2 separate regions of the Homo sapiens genome follow, and region 1 is linked to region 2. A link means that fine-mapping ties the variant in region 2 to the expression of a gene that starts in the linked region. Tissue or cell type: whole blood. Region 2 holds a variant in brackets; the other region holds the start of a gene. All regions are shown on one strand. Distances are between the middles of the regions.

Region 1 (8,104 bases), 41 kb after region 2:
ATTGGCCATAGAAAGGTTATGTTTGCAGTAACCCAGTCACAAAGCCTCAATTAATAGGCACAAGGAATGTGTATTTACCAGTTGTGTATCTGGAGCTAAGGAGGCCATCAGTACCATGAAGCCTCATTAAACAACGCATTCTGAATTAATCAGCCGCCAACACAGTATGCCTATAACAATGACGGGAGTGACTTTGTGAGGATAACCCCACTACTAAAATTAAGTTTTGATTAAAGTTTTTTGGTTAAGAGGCAATCATAAAAAGAATAAAAGACGGGAAAAGATTCTGCAAAGGAGCTATCCTACTGGCCTGAATGACAGGCACAGAATGCTGTGAAATTTATTCACTATCTTATACTTCCGTTGTTACTATTAGCATAGTGAGAGGCAGCATAGGGTGAGTATTAAAAGTACAGACTCGGGCCGGGCACGGTGGTTCACGCTTGTAATCCCAGCACTTTGGGAGGCGGAGGCTGGTAGATCCTCTGAGGTCAGGAGTTTGAGACCAGCCTGGCCAACATGGCGAAACCCCGTCTCTACTAAAAATACAAAAAATTAGCTGGGCGTGGTGGCGGGCACCTGTAATCCCAGCTACTTGGGAGGCTGAGGCAGGAGAATTGTTTGAACCTGGGAGGCAGAGGTTGTAGTGAAGCAAGACGGTGCCACTGCACTCCAGCCTTGGCGACAGAGCAAGACTCTATCTCAAAAAAAAAAAAAAAAAAGTGCAGTCTCTTGGGCCGGCATGGTCGCTCATGCCTGTAACCTCAGCACTTTTGAGAGGCCGAGGCTGGAGAATATCTTGAGCCCAGGAGTTTGAGACCAGCCTAGGCAACATAGTGAGACCCTGTCTAAAAAAAGAAAAAAAAAAAAAAGCGCAGACTCTGGTGCCGAACTGCCTGGGTTTGAATCCAGTTCTGCCAGGGATTCGCTGTACAACCTTGGCAAGTTACTTACCCTGTCCATTTCTCAGCTTTCTCATCTGTGACACAGCAATAACAGTAGTACCGACCACATACAATAGTTATAGGGATTAAAGAAGTTAACGCAGTATTCATATCTTAATACCTTAAAACAATTCCTGGCATGTGGTAAATAGCATTTGTTACATACATTAAAAAAATAACTAACCCAGCCTCCCTCACATGAAGTGGTAGAGGGAAATCAAAACAATCCTAAAACGTGTTTAGAATTTACATGGGACCTTTCACACGAAGCACGTCACAGACATCTGCAGGAAGAATAAATAGTCAAATAGGCAAAGCAGAAACTGAAACATGGAAAAGGGAAGTAAGATGTTCAGTTTCACTTAGCACAAATCATTCTCAGATCTCAGGCAGGAGCCCCAAAGTCCTGTCAGTCCAGGTTTTGTTCAACAGGCCACTTTGCACATAAAAGTAGAGTCACCCTTAAAAATAGCAAGTCTTCACCCAGGAACATCTCATAAATCTTCCCTTGTTGATATTTTCTCAGAGGTAAATATTCTGCTTCTAGTTTTTGGATCCCAGCTGCTCCTGAGACCATCATTATATCTGAAACTGTTTCTAAATGTCAAGTGAGGTCAGGCCTGGTGGCTCACACCTGTTAATTCCAGCACTTTGGGAGGCCGACGTGGCGGGGGAGAATTGCTTGAGCCCAGGAGTTAGAGACCAGCCTGGGCAATATGGTGAGACCCTGTCTCTACAAAAAAGTTTTTTAAAGTAGCCAGATGTGGTAGCTGGCACCTATATCCCCAGCTACTTGGGAAGCTGAGCTAGTATAATCGCTTGAGCCCAAGAGTTGGAGGCTGCAGTGAGCCGTGTTCACGGCACTGCGCTCAGCCTGGGGGACAGGGTGAGGCTGTGTCTCAAAAAATAAAATAAAAATAAAATAATAAATGTCAAGTATGACTCCCTTAAGCCACATTCCTGCTCTCGCCTGTCAGCATTCCAGCCTCTTTAAAAAAGATTAAGACCAGAGTTATTAATGAAGCAAACCCTAAATATGGAAGGCATCTCTACAGACTCCGATTCATCATTTAGTCAAAGTAGTTCGGGGTTTCTTTGGCTTTTTGTTTTTTGAAGACAGGGTCTTCCTCTGTCACCCAGGCTGGAGTGTAGTGGTGCGATCTCGGCTCAATGCAGCCTCGACTTATTGGACTCAAGTGATCCTCTCGCCTCAGCCTCCCGAGTAGCTGGCACCACAGGTGAGCACCACCACGCCGAGCTAATTTTTGTATTTTTGTAGAGACGGGGATCTCCCTAGGTTACCCAGGCTGGTCTCAAACTCCTGGACTCAAGCGACCCGCCTCAGCCTCCCCCAAGGTGCTGGAATTACAGGTGTGAGGCACCGCACCCGGTCCAAAGTAGTTTTTATATTTTAAATCCCCCAATTTCTAGAAGATATGAGCTTTCTGACATGGTTCCATATAAATAAATGTGAACTTGCTTAGTTTGCATTGTGAGGAAAAAGGGACAGGTTTGAAGACGAAAAGGAAATGGCACAGAGGTCCTGCCACTCTCTGACAGGGATTCGGCAATGACAAAGTGCAGAGTTTCTGGTCTCATTAGCAGTCCCCGCCCCACCGCACTGCCATGACACTCGCTCACTTTCTCCCCAGGCTCTCCTCGCCTTCATCCCCATGCTCATCTCTGCCTAAGCTTCTTCCGAGGCCACTCATAACGCTTCACCTCTGCTCCCAGGAATTCTCACATCCTCTTCGCGTTGGCCCCACTTGCTGTCACGGCAAGTTTCAGTCCGGGTGGTGCCCTGCCCCTGTCTATAGACTCTGGCCTGTAAAACCTCACTGCACCCCTCTGGCCTCTTCGCCCAGTCTCTCAGCTGCCACCTCCTCTCCAGCAGTCTTGGATCTGAGCTTCACCCTCCTCTGCTGCCCTTGCCCTCCGCAAATCCCACCCACCCTCCTCACCCTAAGCCGGTTCCTTCGTCCCATCCCCGCCCCGCCCGTCCTTCCTCTGCGAAATGCTTCCCAAACAAGTCCTCCGCAGCCGTCGTCCTCAAGACTCGTCGCGCCCGGCCCTTCTCTCCGTGACCCCGCGCCCTCCCAAGCCTCCCGGGGCTCCGGCGCCTGTCGCTGCCCCGACTCCGCGGCGGCTCCCAGCCCACCTGCTCTCCTCAGGCAGGCGCTCCTCGCCGCCTCCGAGCTCCATTCCCGCGCCCTCCGGCCGCATCCGGGGCGGTGAGGCCGCCTCTTCGCCCAAGAGAGGCGTCCCTGCCGCTTCGCCCTTCAGGGCTCCCGGGGCCCCCTGGGGCCGGAGGAGGCACCTGCGGCCGGTGGGCTCCGGGTGATGCGCTACACCCGGGCGGCGACAGCGGGAGGGACCGCCGCCTGGGCTGCGGCTTCTATCCCGGCCACCCCCACTTCCGGCTCCGGGGACTACAGCCCCCGGCGAGCACTCCGAGGCTAGGCCGCTCCCGCAGGACGCGTCCTCCAATCCCAGGCCGCGCTCGCAGACCGCGCCCCTCCAACGGCAGGCCGCTCCCGCAAGCCGCGCCCTCCAATCCCAGGCCGCTCCCGCAGGCCGCGCCCTCCAATCCCAGGCCGCGCTCGTGGATTACTACGCACCCGGTGGTTGGCTGGGCCGGCTTGCAAGCGGCGGGGGACCTTGGTCTCAGGAATCCGTGCCGGGGCGTATCCTTATTCACCCCCGTGACATTACACGCTGGGGACCGAACTCAGTCCGAGATGTAGACTAGGCAATAACGCTAATCTAATCCCGGTACGATTAACCCCACTCAGCCCGCCCTGGCTTAATGTCCGCTGGTGGTGTTTGGAGACCTCGAGCATTTAAATGAAGCGCTCACAAACAAGAGCACAGGTTGCTTTGGGATCATAAAAGAGCAGGAGAGAAAGGCTTCTGGGGGCTCTCGGAAGATGGATGTCAACGCAGAGTTTTCAAGGCTGAGTACGGGTTAGCCAGGAGAAAGAAGAGAAGGTGGAGAGAGCAACACGGCAGATACAAGGAAGGAAGTGCTGGCTTGGGAACTGCAGGTGCTGGGTAGCCAGAGCTGGGAAGGAGTGAGCAGCAGCATGGTGTGGGCATTCTGGTGTGGGGAAACCAGATCATGAAATGCCATTTTAAGGAGTTTGGATTTTATCCTGAAAACAATCAGCAAATCAAGCATATGCAAATCAAGAAGTGATTTGATCGAATCTGATGAGAAAGCCACTTTTGACAATGTGGACAGGAGATGGGGCAGATATAATACTATATTGAGGTAACGGTGGAAGGCTAGATAGGAGACTGGTCATCCTTATGGGGGATAACCAAGTAATGCTAAGAAGTGAAGCGAACCAGTTGAAAGAAACGTGGGCCTAGGGTTGCCAGATACTCTGGTTTCTCTTTTTTCTTTTTCAAAGACGGGGTCTCTCTCTGTCGCCCAGGCTGGGGTGCAGTGGCGCAATCATAGCTCCCTGCAGCCTGGAACTCCTGGGCTCAAGCAGTCCTCCTTCCTCAGCCTCCTGAATAGCTGGGACTACAGGTGCGAGCCACCACACCTAGCTATGATATTTTGATTTTTTAAAAGAAGCTAGGATCTGCATTTTTAAGCACTACTTCCAAATTTTTAAACGTTGGCAACAAATTTTTTAAACTTTCAACTTTGCACAGGCCAAACACAGCTTGTCTGTAGGCTGAAGGTGGCCCTTGAGTTGCTAGTTTGCAAACCCAGGCTTAAACTACAGCAGCGGTTGAAGAGAACAAGGAGGCTCAGATTACAGCAATGTGAAGGCAACAGAATCAGCACTACTCTATAAAGGACTGACTGTGGCAAGTGAGGGAGAAAGAGCGATCAAGAATAACTCCGTGAAAAACTAATGACTCTATATTAAAATAATATATGGCTTTTAGGTATTTTCAAACTTGACAAAAGTGTTTTGGCAATTAAAAATGAAATGAAAGAGCCTCTTGAAGCCATTTATGATTTCATTTAGGTTAAAAAAATACTCTCTTTCAAACTTTCTCATTTTCCTACTAAACGATTATACTTCTTTAAGAAAGGGGCAATATTACTCATTGGGATTTCTCTTCCTTCTGTGACTTTCTTCTCTTTTGGAGACGCAGTCTTGCTCTGTCACCCAGGCTGGGGTGCAGTAGCGCTGCCACAGTTCACTGCAGCCTCAACCTCCTCAAGCGGATCCTCTCACCTCAGCTTCCCAAGTAGCTGGGACCACAGGCAGTGCCACTATGCCCAGCTAATTTGTTTTTTTTTTTTTAATTTTTGGTAGAGACAGGGTCTCACTGTGCTGCCTAAGCTGGTCTCAAATTCCTGGGCTCAAGCAGTCCTCCTGCCTCAGTCACCCAAAAAGTATTGGGATTACAGGCATGAGGCACCATACCTGGCCTTACTTCTAGTTCTATAAATGTATGAACTTTATTTTTTGGCATACAGTATAATCCCAAATTAACACTATATTATTTATTTATTTATTTTTGAGACAGAGTTTCACTCTTGTTGGCTAGACTGGAGTGCAATGGCGCGATCGGGTTCAAGCGATTCTCCTGCCTCAGCCTCCTGAGCAGCTGGGATTACAGGCATCCGCCACCACGCCCGGCTAATTTTGTATTTTTTAGTAGGGACAAGGTTTCTCCATGTTGGTCAGGCCGGTCTTGAACTCCCGACCTCAGGTGATCCGCCGGCTTCGGCCTCCCAAAGTGCTGGGATTACAGGCGTACTAAAAAATACAAAAAAATTAGCCGGGCATGGTGGCAGACGCCTGTAATCCCAGCTACTCAGGAGGCTGAGGCAGGAGAATGGCTTGAACCCAGGAGGCAGGGCTTGCAGTGAGCCGAGATCGTGCTACTGCACTCCAGCCTGGGCGATAAGAGCAAGACTTCGTCTGAAAAAAGAAAAAAAAAAAAAGGCCGGGCGTGGTGGCTCATGCCTGTAATCCCAGCACTTTGGGAGGTCAAGGCGGGCAGATCACGAGGTCAGGAGATGGAGACTATCCTGGCTGACACGGTGAAACCCCGTCTCTACTAAAAATACAACAAAAAATTAGCCGGGCGTGGTGGCGGGCGCCTGTAGTCCCAGCTACTCCGGAGGCTGAGGCAGGAGAATGGCGTGATGAACCCGGGAGGCGGAGCTTGCAGTGAGCAGAGATCACGCCACTGCACTCCAGCCTGGAAGACAGAGCTAGACCTGGGCGACAGAGGGAGACTCCGTTTCAAAAAAAAAGGCAATCAGCTTTATCAGGAAATCCTAGGGGCCAGAAGCGGTGGCTCACGCCTGTAATCTCAACACTGGGAGGCCCAGGCAGGCGGGTCACTTGACACCAGGAGTTCGAAACCAGCCTGGCCAACATAGTGAAACTCTGTCTCTACTAAAAATACAAAGAAAAAATAGTCGGGTGTAGTGGCACACGCCTGTAATCCCAGCTACTTGGGTGGCTGAGGCATGAGAATCGTTTGAACCCGTGAGGTAGAGGTTGCAGTGAGCTGAGATTGTACCACTGCACTCCACCCTGGGTGACAGAGTGAGACTGTCTTGGGGAGAAAAAAAAGAAATCCAAAAACTAAAATTGTAGCAAAAAGGCTGGAAAACAGGCTTTTTCTCATATGTCCAAGTTCAAGTTACATGTACTGGATTTTCTTTAAAGCCATTAATAAACATGACAATAATCTGCACTAGCCATGCGTTACCTATCCCATCCCTCTACTTTCCCTCATAATCCTGAACCCCTTCTTTTGTTTTTTTTTCTTTTGAGATGGAGTCTCGCTCTGTCACTCAGGCTGGATCATGGATCCACTGAAAATACAAAATACAAAAAATTAGCTGGGAATGGTGGCAGACGCCTGTAATCCCAGCTACTCGGGAGGCTGAGCCAGGAGAATCTCTTTAACCTGGGAGGCGGAGGTTGCAGTGAGCTGAGGTCATGCCATTGCACTCCATCCTGGGCAACAAGGCAAGACTCCATCTTAAAAAAAAAGAAAAAGAAAAAGAAATTTTGTAGTATAATTGGCAAAATTTGAACATGAACCATAATTGGATAATAGTACAGCATCAATGTTAAATTTTCTAAACTTGGTAATTTTAGCATGGTTATGTTAAGGAATATCCCTAGAAATATATTCTCTTTCTTTTTTTTTTGAGACAGAGTCTTGCTGTGTTGCCCAGGCTGGAGTGCAGTGGCACAATCTCAGCTCACTGCAACCTGTGCCTCCTGGGTTCAAGCAATTCTCCTGCCTCAGCCTCCCGAGTAGCTGGGATTACAGGTGCCCAACACCACGCCCAGTTAGTTTTTATATTTTTAGTAGAGACGGGGTTTCATCATGTTGGCCAGGCTGGTCTCGAACTTCTGACCTCAAGTGACCTGCCCACCTCAGCCTCCCAAAGTGCTGGGATTACACGTGTGAGCCACTGCACACAGCCCTTAGAAATAGATTCTAAAGAGTCATAATTCCTGCAACTTTCTCTCAAATTGTCTAACAACAACTAATACCTCTATACAGAGAGAAAGCAAATGTGGCAAAACATTAATTGGCGAAGTAGAGGATATATGGGTATTCATTGCACTATTTTTGCAACTTTTCTCTACATTTGCAAGTTTAAAAAATAGTCAAGGTTCTGCTTTCATGGGGACCTAAAAAAATAGTCAATGATCTTAGTATGGTTTTGTTTTCTTATGACTGTATCCTGCTAAATATAACAAAAATTTTAGTGTTTCACATGGAAATTTTTAATCTTGTAATGATTAACTTTAAAGACAGTTTAAAATTAATTTATGTTTTCCCCATAGGTAGCATTTCTAAAAGTCTTTTAAGCCAATTTTGCCAAATGACCAATTCACTGACTTTACCAAATTTACTGATTTACCAAAATTCTTTTTCTGTTAGGCATATATAAAGCTTATAGTAGTTCATCTGATGAGATGATTTTAAAAGCTTTTGAAGAATTTTGCCAAGTTTTAATTACTTAGCTTTTATTCTGTCTTTATAGCAACATTTCCATCCCCTCTAAGCACTTAGTAGTGGTTCATTTATTCAATTATATAGGAACTGGCTGGGCACAGTGGCTCATGCCTGTAATCCCAGCACCTTGGGAGGCCGAGGTGGGAGGATCACTTGAGGTCAGGAGTTCAAGAACAGCCTGGCTAACATGGTGAAAT
Region 2 (8,104 bases):
CCATCGCCTCCAGGGAGGGGAGAGGGATCGAAGACTCAGCCCAGTCACCAGTGGCCGATGACTTAATCGATGGTGCCTATATAATGAAACTTCAATAAAAACTTGAACAATGATGTCCAGGCTTCCTGGTTGGCGAACACATCAATGCACCTGGGAGGGTGGTGCCCCAGACACCACGGGGGCAGGACGAGTTCCTGTGCTCGTGATCTCTTCCTTAGTCCCTGTGTACTTCTTCATGTGGCTGCTCATTTGGATCCTTTACAACAGACTATAAGCATAAGCTTTCCCAAGTTCTGGGCATCATTCAAGCAAATTATCCTGCCTTGGGGAAGGGGGTCGTGGGAATCTCTGAATTTGTAGTCAGCCTACAAGCAGAAGGGCAGGTAGCTTGGTGACCTGTGTCTGGCATCTGAAGCGGAATTAATTTCACAGGACTGTAGCTGCAGGATCCGTGCTAACTCCAGGTAGTTAGTGTCAGAGCTAAATTGTAAGTCACCCAGCTGATGGTAGAGAATTGGAGAGGAGTTGGAAAATCACATACAAACAACCAAACAAACAAAAGGAGTTTTAAATGACTACCTATTGTTGTCATACATAGAAATCAGAGACATTAAGGAGAACATAGAAGGAAGACTTCCTGAATACCTCGAAAATGTGTGAAAAAACGGAGTTTCTGAATGGGAAGAAACATGTGGTTCCTCCATCTGGAGGCCTGTGCAGGCGAATGGGCTCTCTAGATTGTGTAAACAGGAAATCAAAGCCTCTTGCAACACAAGACCTATCTGTCATCACATTATGTTATAATGGAGAATTATAGATACAGTTCACCTCTGTCTACATACACAATGTTGTAACAGAGAATTATAGATACCATTCACTTCAGTAAGGAAACTACTCTTAGTTTCACCCATGAAGGAAGAGCGTTTGTCCCTGAACTGTTTTTTTGTTTGTGTGTTTGTTTTGCTGATGGGAACTTGAAGAGATCTATGATTTGCAGGAGTGGGACATTAACCTGATTTAACATAACTGCCTTCCCAGACTGGAACCCCACTGTTCCTCTATGCTGATACTCCTACCACCACCACCACCACCAATAAAAACAGAGTCTGTGACTGTGCTGAGCAGTGAGCACCGACCGCAAGGGCAGAAATTCAAGCTCTACTTTGTAAACCTGATGTTTTTCCTCTTTTGTCCCCCTGCCCCCAATGATTCTTTTTGTCCTTTTCTCTTTTGAACACTCTGAAACAATTTCAGTTGTGTTATGGAACCCAAGAGAATAGGATTCTAATTTCAAGTGGTATGGACCAGCCCTACAAGCTGAAAGGAGGAGTCAGAGTGGGAACCCAGGAGAAAGACACCACTGAGGAGGACGCGTCAGGGTGACATCAACGAGCAGCCACTCCATCCACCTGGAACACCTGCTTCCAGTGTTCTTCCCTACTGAAACTGTGAAGGGGTTTTGTTTTTAGCAGAAGGCTGTCCCTTACAATAGCTAACAACAATCCATAATGAAGATCTTCTACTTAGGAAACACTTCGCAGCTTATCATTCTAAATGGAAAGAAACAGAATAAAAGTTCCCTTGTAACAAAGTGTCACTTCTTACCTTGGATTTCAAATTCATCAACCTCATCAGCAGAGCCAGAGTCAGAGAGCTGTGCCGAATCACGTGAGCTGAACTGGGAGCTGCTGGAGGTGACCCGAAAGCCTGTTATGTTTAAAAACAAAAAGGAATAAACAGGGCAGAAAGAGGTCTTCTTGTCCTTCCAGTGTCACAATATAAGGGATCTGATATGACCTCAACAGAGAGAAATGGAAACTTTCCCTTTAGAAAGTTTCAAGTAAATAGAAGGTACTACTATCTGGGAAGCAAATCTGGGAGCAGTGTTCTTAGGTCTCCTCATATCAGGAAGCTATTTGGGAAGGGAGCTATTCCTTTATTTATATATATACATATATATATTTAGAGCTGGGGTTTCACCATGTTGGCCAGGCAGGTCTCAAACTCCTGGCCTCAAGTGATCCACCCGCCTCGGCCTCCCAAAGTGCTGGGATTCCAGGCGTGAGCCACTCTGCCTGGCCTGGAAGGCAGGTATTTCTGATGCAGGAAACGGAGCGACTCTAGGATGAGTATTCCTAGCATGATAGAAAAAAAGTAGGACTACATAGAAACATCTGACAGCAGAGGAACCACTGGTTTGGGCACCAGGCCTTATGCTGAAGTTGGGAAAATGTGGGAACAGAAGCATCCACAGGCTCCACTGACTTCCGTGCTCAGCCTCCTGGTACATGGGGAGCAGGTTCTTGGTGCGGATTTGCTGGCGCCGAAGGCGGATCTTCTGCTTCAGCTCCTGGATCTCTCTATCACTGTCTTCCTCTTCCACTTCCTCCTCCTCTAGGCACTGGCTCATCATGTTGCACTTCATTAGCTCGATGGCAGCAATTAAGGACTCTGAGATGCTGAAGTGGGCATTCTCCTGGCGGAAGGAGAGCACCAAACAGGCAAAGGGTTAGAAGTATTGAATGACATACTCATTATAATGTGGAAAAGGGAGTTTCCAAGATAGGAACTGTTCCTGCCAAAAACACCCTGGAGAAATGGACATTTCTACTACGAGGAAAGCTGATGGCTGGAAAACCTATTCTAGGTTTTCTTCACTCTCTTACTTTGCCAAGCCTGTCCCTTCCTGTCTCATTTCTACATAAAAATATGATAGAGAAGAGGCCCAGGATTTCAATCAGGTTCTTTCCCAAAATCATACACCTGTACACAAAATATTAAGATAAATGCTATGTCTCAAGATAAAAGTGCTTTGTAGTCTATAAAATGCTACACAGATGTCATTTATTGCTTATCTGAGCCTTAGAACAAAAGATAGAATTTGATTCTGGAAACAGTATTTACCTAAGGTGCCAGAGTCAAGGGAACCGCAATCATGCAGCAAAAACAATGCTGCCAGACGCAGCGGCTCACACCTGTGAATCCCAGCACTCTGGGAGGCCAAGCCCAGGAGTTCAAGACCCCAGACGCAGCGGCTCACACCTGTGAATCCCAGCACTCTGGGAGGCCAAGCCCAGGAGTTCAAGACCCCAGACGCAGCGGCTCACACCTGTGAATCCCAGCACTCTGGGAGGCCAAGCCCAGGAGTTCAAGACCCCAGACGCAGTGGCTCACACCTGTGAATCCCAGCACTCTGGGAGGCCAAGCCAAGGAGTTCAAGACCCCAGACACATGGGCTCACACCTGTTAATCCCAGCACTTAGGGAGGCCAAGCCCAGGAGTTCAAGACCAGCTTGGGCAACACAGGGAGACCTCCCCCATCTCTACAAAAAAATAAAAAAAATAGCCAGGTGTGGTGGTGCATGTTTGTAGTCCCAGCTACTCGGGAGGCTGAGGCGGGAGGATTGCTCGAGCCCAGGAATTTGAGGCTGTAGTGAGCCATGACCGTGACACTGCACTCCAGCTTAGGTGACAGAGCAAGACTCTTGTCTCAAAAAAACAAAAACACACACACAAACTTGATGCTTCTCTGCCCAGGTTGGCTTCTAAGATAAAATCGCTAATAATTTGGACTCAGTGAGGGGCACATGCTCCCTGCAGAGTTCCTCAGAAACAGAACTTGCTGAGCTTCCCTTTACCGTGAACTTATCTTTACTGTAATCTATACCCAAAACCTCATCAGAACAAATGGCACCACAGACCTTCAGACCCAATCTCCCAACTCATGAGCTCTTCATGAGGCCCTCGATTTCCCACCTTTTCCAGGTCGGCACAGCTGCCGAAGTCTTGCTCAGAGAGGTAGCTGATGAGGGACTGTCCTTCTGATGGTCTTCGGAACATGCCTTCCCCTGAGCACAGGTACCGACCACCTTCTGTGGGAAATGGAATGTGGATGAAACAGCCAGGCTTCTTCAGGAAGTCTTAAGCTTTTGTCATTAAAGATGCTCCCAAGTCTTCCCAGGTAACTGGGAATTAGAGGTTGGAAGAAGATGTCCACCTTCTAAAAGAATTTCTTGCACTTTGGGAGGGCAAGGCAGGCGGATCACAAGGTCAGGAGTTTGAGACCAGCCTGGCCAACATGGTGAAACCCCATCTCTACTAAAAATACAAAAATTAGCTGGGCATGGTGGCACATGCCTGTAATCCCAGCTACTCAGGAGGCTGAGGCAGGAGAATCATCTGAACCTGGGAGGCGGAGGTTGCAGTGAGCCAAGATCGCACCACTGCACTCCAGCCTGGGCAACAAGAGCAAAACTCTGTCTCAAAAAAAAAAAAACAAAACAAAAAAGAATTTCTTGGACTCTTAGAATCCCAGAGCACTAAGCCTCTTGGTTGGAAAACGGTAGAATAAACAGAGAGAATCCTTCTGCCATCTAAAATTAAAGAGAACATGCTCTCCCTCGTACCATACAGTAAAGAAAAAACAAAATAAAAATGTAGAACTTTGGGCTGGGAGGCAGAAAAGGACACAAATGGCTTCCTCCTCTGCATGATTTCCACATAGAGTCTGTCTGCTGGTTACTAAGCCCAGATACTCCAAGGCCTCTTTTCAAGGTCCATCTCATCCACTCAGAGAGCCATCCCATCTGGACCAGCCGACGTACCCGGTGCGAACACCCAGCACGTAAGAGAGGGTGGGACCCCCAAGTCAGAGAGAAGCAAGAGAAATGGCAGAGCAGTGTGATTTCTAGCACGGGGGTTAAAAATGACAAAAGAGTGACTGAGACTGTAACAGTGTGTACCCTCCAGAGAGCTGAGATGAACCCCAAAACTCAGAACTTAGCAGGCACAAGGGGTGAGCAGAGAAAATATACAATTTTAGCCCTGGCCTTCCTAGTACTCACCATATTCCATGTACAGAGAGCTGGGTGTGCTGACTTCACTGCTTTGACCAGAGTAGGGCAAAG[G/C]GCCTCTCAACTTCGCCTTATCATTGCAGGATTCTAATGACGATGACCACCAGCGAGTAAAAACACATACGAAATGAGCAACAGGTACATTCCCAACTCTGGAGTTTCAACACTTAACTGCACCCCTTCCCAAAGCCCTCCCAAGCAGGAGAGAGGCGGCACACCAACGGAACAGCCCAAGGGTACAGAAACACAGGGAGGGAAGGAGATGGCAGGTCAGTACATTCTAAGTGGAAAAGAAGAAACGTGATCCAGAATGGGGCAACATAAAGGAAAGAATCAAATCAAAATGGATTCATGGAATTTGCTTCTCTTTCCTTACATCTTTTAACCAAACATTACAGGAATATCAGCTGATTCCTATCCTCTTGACAAACCAATTTAGAAAAGTCTTTAGATGGTAAAACAAAGACAAGTGCATTGAAACTTTTCTGACATCTTGACATTAGGTTTTAAAGTAACATCAGAAGATTTACATTCACTAAGGAAATAAAATTCAGCAGCATCCTAAAAAGAAGCATCAAGGCAGTGCTGGAGAAGCCCAGGGAGAGGGCCCTGTAAGCAAAGGGCTCCGTTACGGGGCTCGGCCCGGCCTTACTGAAGAAGGGAGGGAGGGAAGGCTGGCGAGACAGACAATGCCTGGGACAGGAAGAGCGAGAGCTGGGAGGGAGAACAGTAGCAGGCAGGGTTTGCAGGAATGAGAAACTGATATTCTTCACAAGGAAACACAACATTTCCAGGACCACAGAAGGAAGAACAGGTGGAAAAGCAGGTGGGTGCTTGAAAATGAGCAGGATGCTGTGGGAGAGTGAATGACTGAGCTGCATCTAACCCATTTCCCTGACAGATGTTACCAACTTGCTCCTCTCACAAAAAATGCTACTCTGTGCAAGAGACAATTTTGTGTTCTTCTTGGGCCTCAAAGACTTCTGGTAGCCCTGGCTGTGGGCTCTGTTCCTTCCTACTGAACTGAGGACAAACTAGTAGTCGCCACGATGCCTTGGTAAAAAACCATGATATGACTTGGAAGGGACCTTCAAGATTCCCAAACAGCACACAACACAAACTCCAACACGACCTTAACCTCTTTACAACATGTGGCCATTCAGCCTTTACTTACTGAGTTCACTACCTCCTAATGCCACCATTTAACTAATTCTTAGAATTCCCTTACACTCGTTATCTGCCTTCTTCCAATTTCTTATCTCCTTAAGAAGAACGCTATTCTAAATGATGGTCCTACAGACTTTATTCCTCTTTAACCATCTGTTTTCCAAGCTAACATACCCAATGGCCTCACCCACTTCCAGGAGGCCACGGCTTTCAGCCCTCTCTCAATACTCTGCCTTGCAGACACATTCCAGTGTTCATGTCCATGAATTATGGTACCCAGGATGGAACACAAATCTCAGTTTGAACACCACCATGAACACCAAGGAAACAGACTGAAATAACTAGAAGAATCCTATGCAATAGCTGGAATGGGGTGCAGGGATTTATAGGGAAATGAAAACAGGTGAAAGAAAAAGGAAACGGAACTGCAGGAGAGGGAAAAAAAACAAAAAAACAAAAAACAAAAAAACCAAACATGCAAGTATATCTAAGACCACAGAAAGGGGATAAAATACATTCTGGTGTTAATTCAAGGAAAATAAAGTAATCCATAGGAAGTATTCAGTTATAAGAAAAATTCTGGGCCAGGTGTGGTGGATCACGCCTGTAATCCCAGCACTCGGGAGGCCAAGACAGGAGGATCACTTGAAGCCAGGAGTTCAAGACCAACCTGGGCAATGCGGTGAAACCCTGTCTCTACAAAAAAAAAAAAAAAAAAAAAGTAAAAAAAATTTAAAAAAAGAAAAAAAAGTCTGCTACTGATTCATCATGATGCCTCAGACAAATAGCAGGCCTCAGTTTCACCTTTGGGCAAAACTGAATTGATAAGTCTTGACTCTGCCTCCCAGAAGCTGTTGAGAGACTGAACGAGGCATTTGGAATTGTGTATAGAAAACACATCATATGAAATACTGGTATCATTTTATAGACAGTTCCAAGCATCACAACAAGACCAGGCTAGCCAGACTTGATTTGACACCAGACTGAAGGAGGTTCTGAACTAAGAAAGGTGGTCACAAAACAGAACAAAGAGGAGGTGGAGGACCGATTCCCAAACCTGCAATGGGATCTTCAACTATAATGGTGATATTCCTGGGGCCTCCTGCCGGTAGACAGACAGGTGCAGAGGAGAGTCCAGATAGAGCAATGAGAATACAGAGAGAGAAAAAAAGTGTCCTAAATTTTACCCAGCAGAAGTGGGGATGGAACTCCCAAGAGGAAACCCCAGTTGTGAAGGACGGATGGCTTGTCCAAGAAGCTGTGCGTGACCCATATTTCCTCAGATCCTTCCGCACACATTTTCGCGGGCTCCCTTTTTCCAAGGCAGGATTCCACTGGAATCCATATGGATTCAAGAATGGGGCGGGAAAGTTTTACATGCTCAAAGGCCAGTGGCTTGGAGTATGGCAGACATCAGGCCTGCAGCAGGAGATGTGAAGTGAGGGTCCAGCCCAGTCATCTTCACATCTAAGAAAGCTCATGGGAAGACAGGCTTTGATTTGGAGATTCTTCTCCTCAAGATTTCCAACAAGTTAAATCACATTCTTGAGGGAAAACAAAGACAAAAGTTTGTAATTCTGAAGGTTTCAGATGAGGGCCTTAGCTCTCACCTTTCCAGAAATTACAAAGAGAAAGCAACGCTATCTCCAGTTGCTAAAGAAACCGCCCCCTCTTTTTTTTAGGTCCTTGAATTTTTCACATTTTATTTTTATATTTTATTTCTGGGGCTTTCCTGACCCAGAATGGCTTTGAGCACAAAGCTCCATGCTATACTTCCTCTTATGGAGATCCTACTACAAACAAAACCCAACCAAAGCCTGCCGGATACCACAAGCCGGGAAGGATGATGGCAGGGAGATGGCAAAAGCAAGGAGCCCCACCTTCCCCACGAGTAGGCTGCCCCTGCTATCAGCTGGTGTTTGGTGAGGGAGGTCCCAGCTGCCAGGGCCTCCTTATCTGACGGCCTCTCACCCTGAATCAGTGATGCGGCCGTCAGCCCCACCGACTCAGTTGCTGGATCGCATCACCCTGCACTCACTATAGCCTTCGTTTTAATTAGAAACCCCAGTATCTCTCTGCCTCTC

Evidence for each region. PIP is the estimated chance that this variant, and not a neighbour inherited with it, causes the effect.
Region 1: it holds the start of RUBCN, and the variant in region 2 is fine-mapped to the expression of RUBCN in whole blood (TOPMed, PIP above 0.99).

The regions. Positions count from the first base shown.
Region 1 is chr3:197,733,553-197,741,656 of GRCh38, forward strand. It overlaps RUBCN (rubicon autophagy regulator), which reads right to left and starts at 3,352. Exons shown (of 20, transcript NM_014687.4): 1 at 3,103-3,352. The coding sequence starts at 3,167. RefSeq lists enhancers at 1,650-1,699, 2,630-3,477 and silencers at 3,066-3,615, 5,975-6,107.
Region 2 is chr3:197,692,110-197,700,213 of GRCh38, forward strand. It overlaps RUBCN (rubicon autophagy regulator), which reads right to left. Exons shown (of 20, transcript NM_014687.4): 8 at 4,845-4,940; 9 at 3,757-3,872; 10 at 2,266-2,476; 11 at 1,606-1,707. Among named protein-coding and RNA genes, the nearest start is that of MIR922, 22 kb to the left of the region's middle. The variant G/C (reference allele first, on the strand shown) is at 4,908.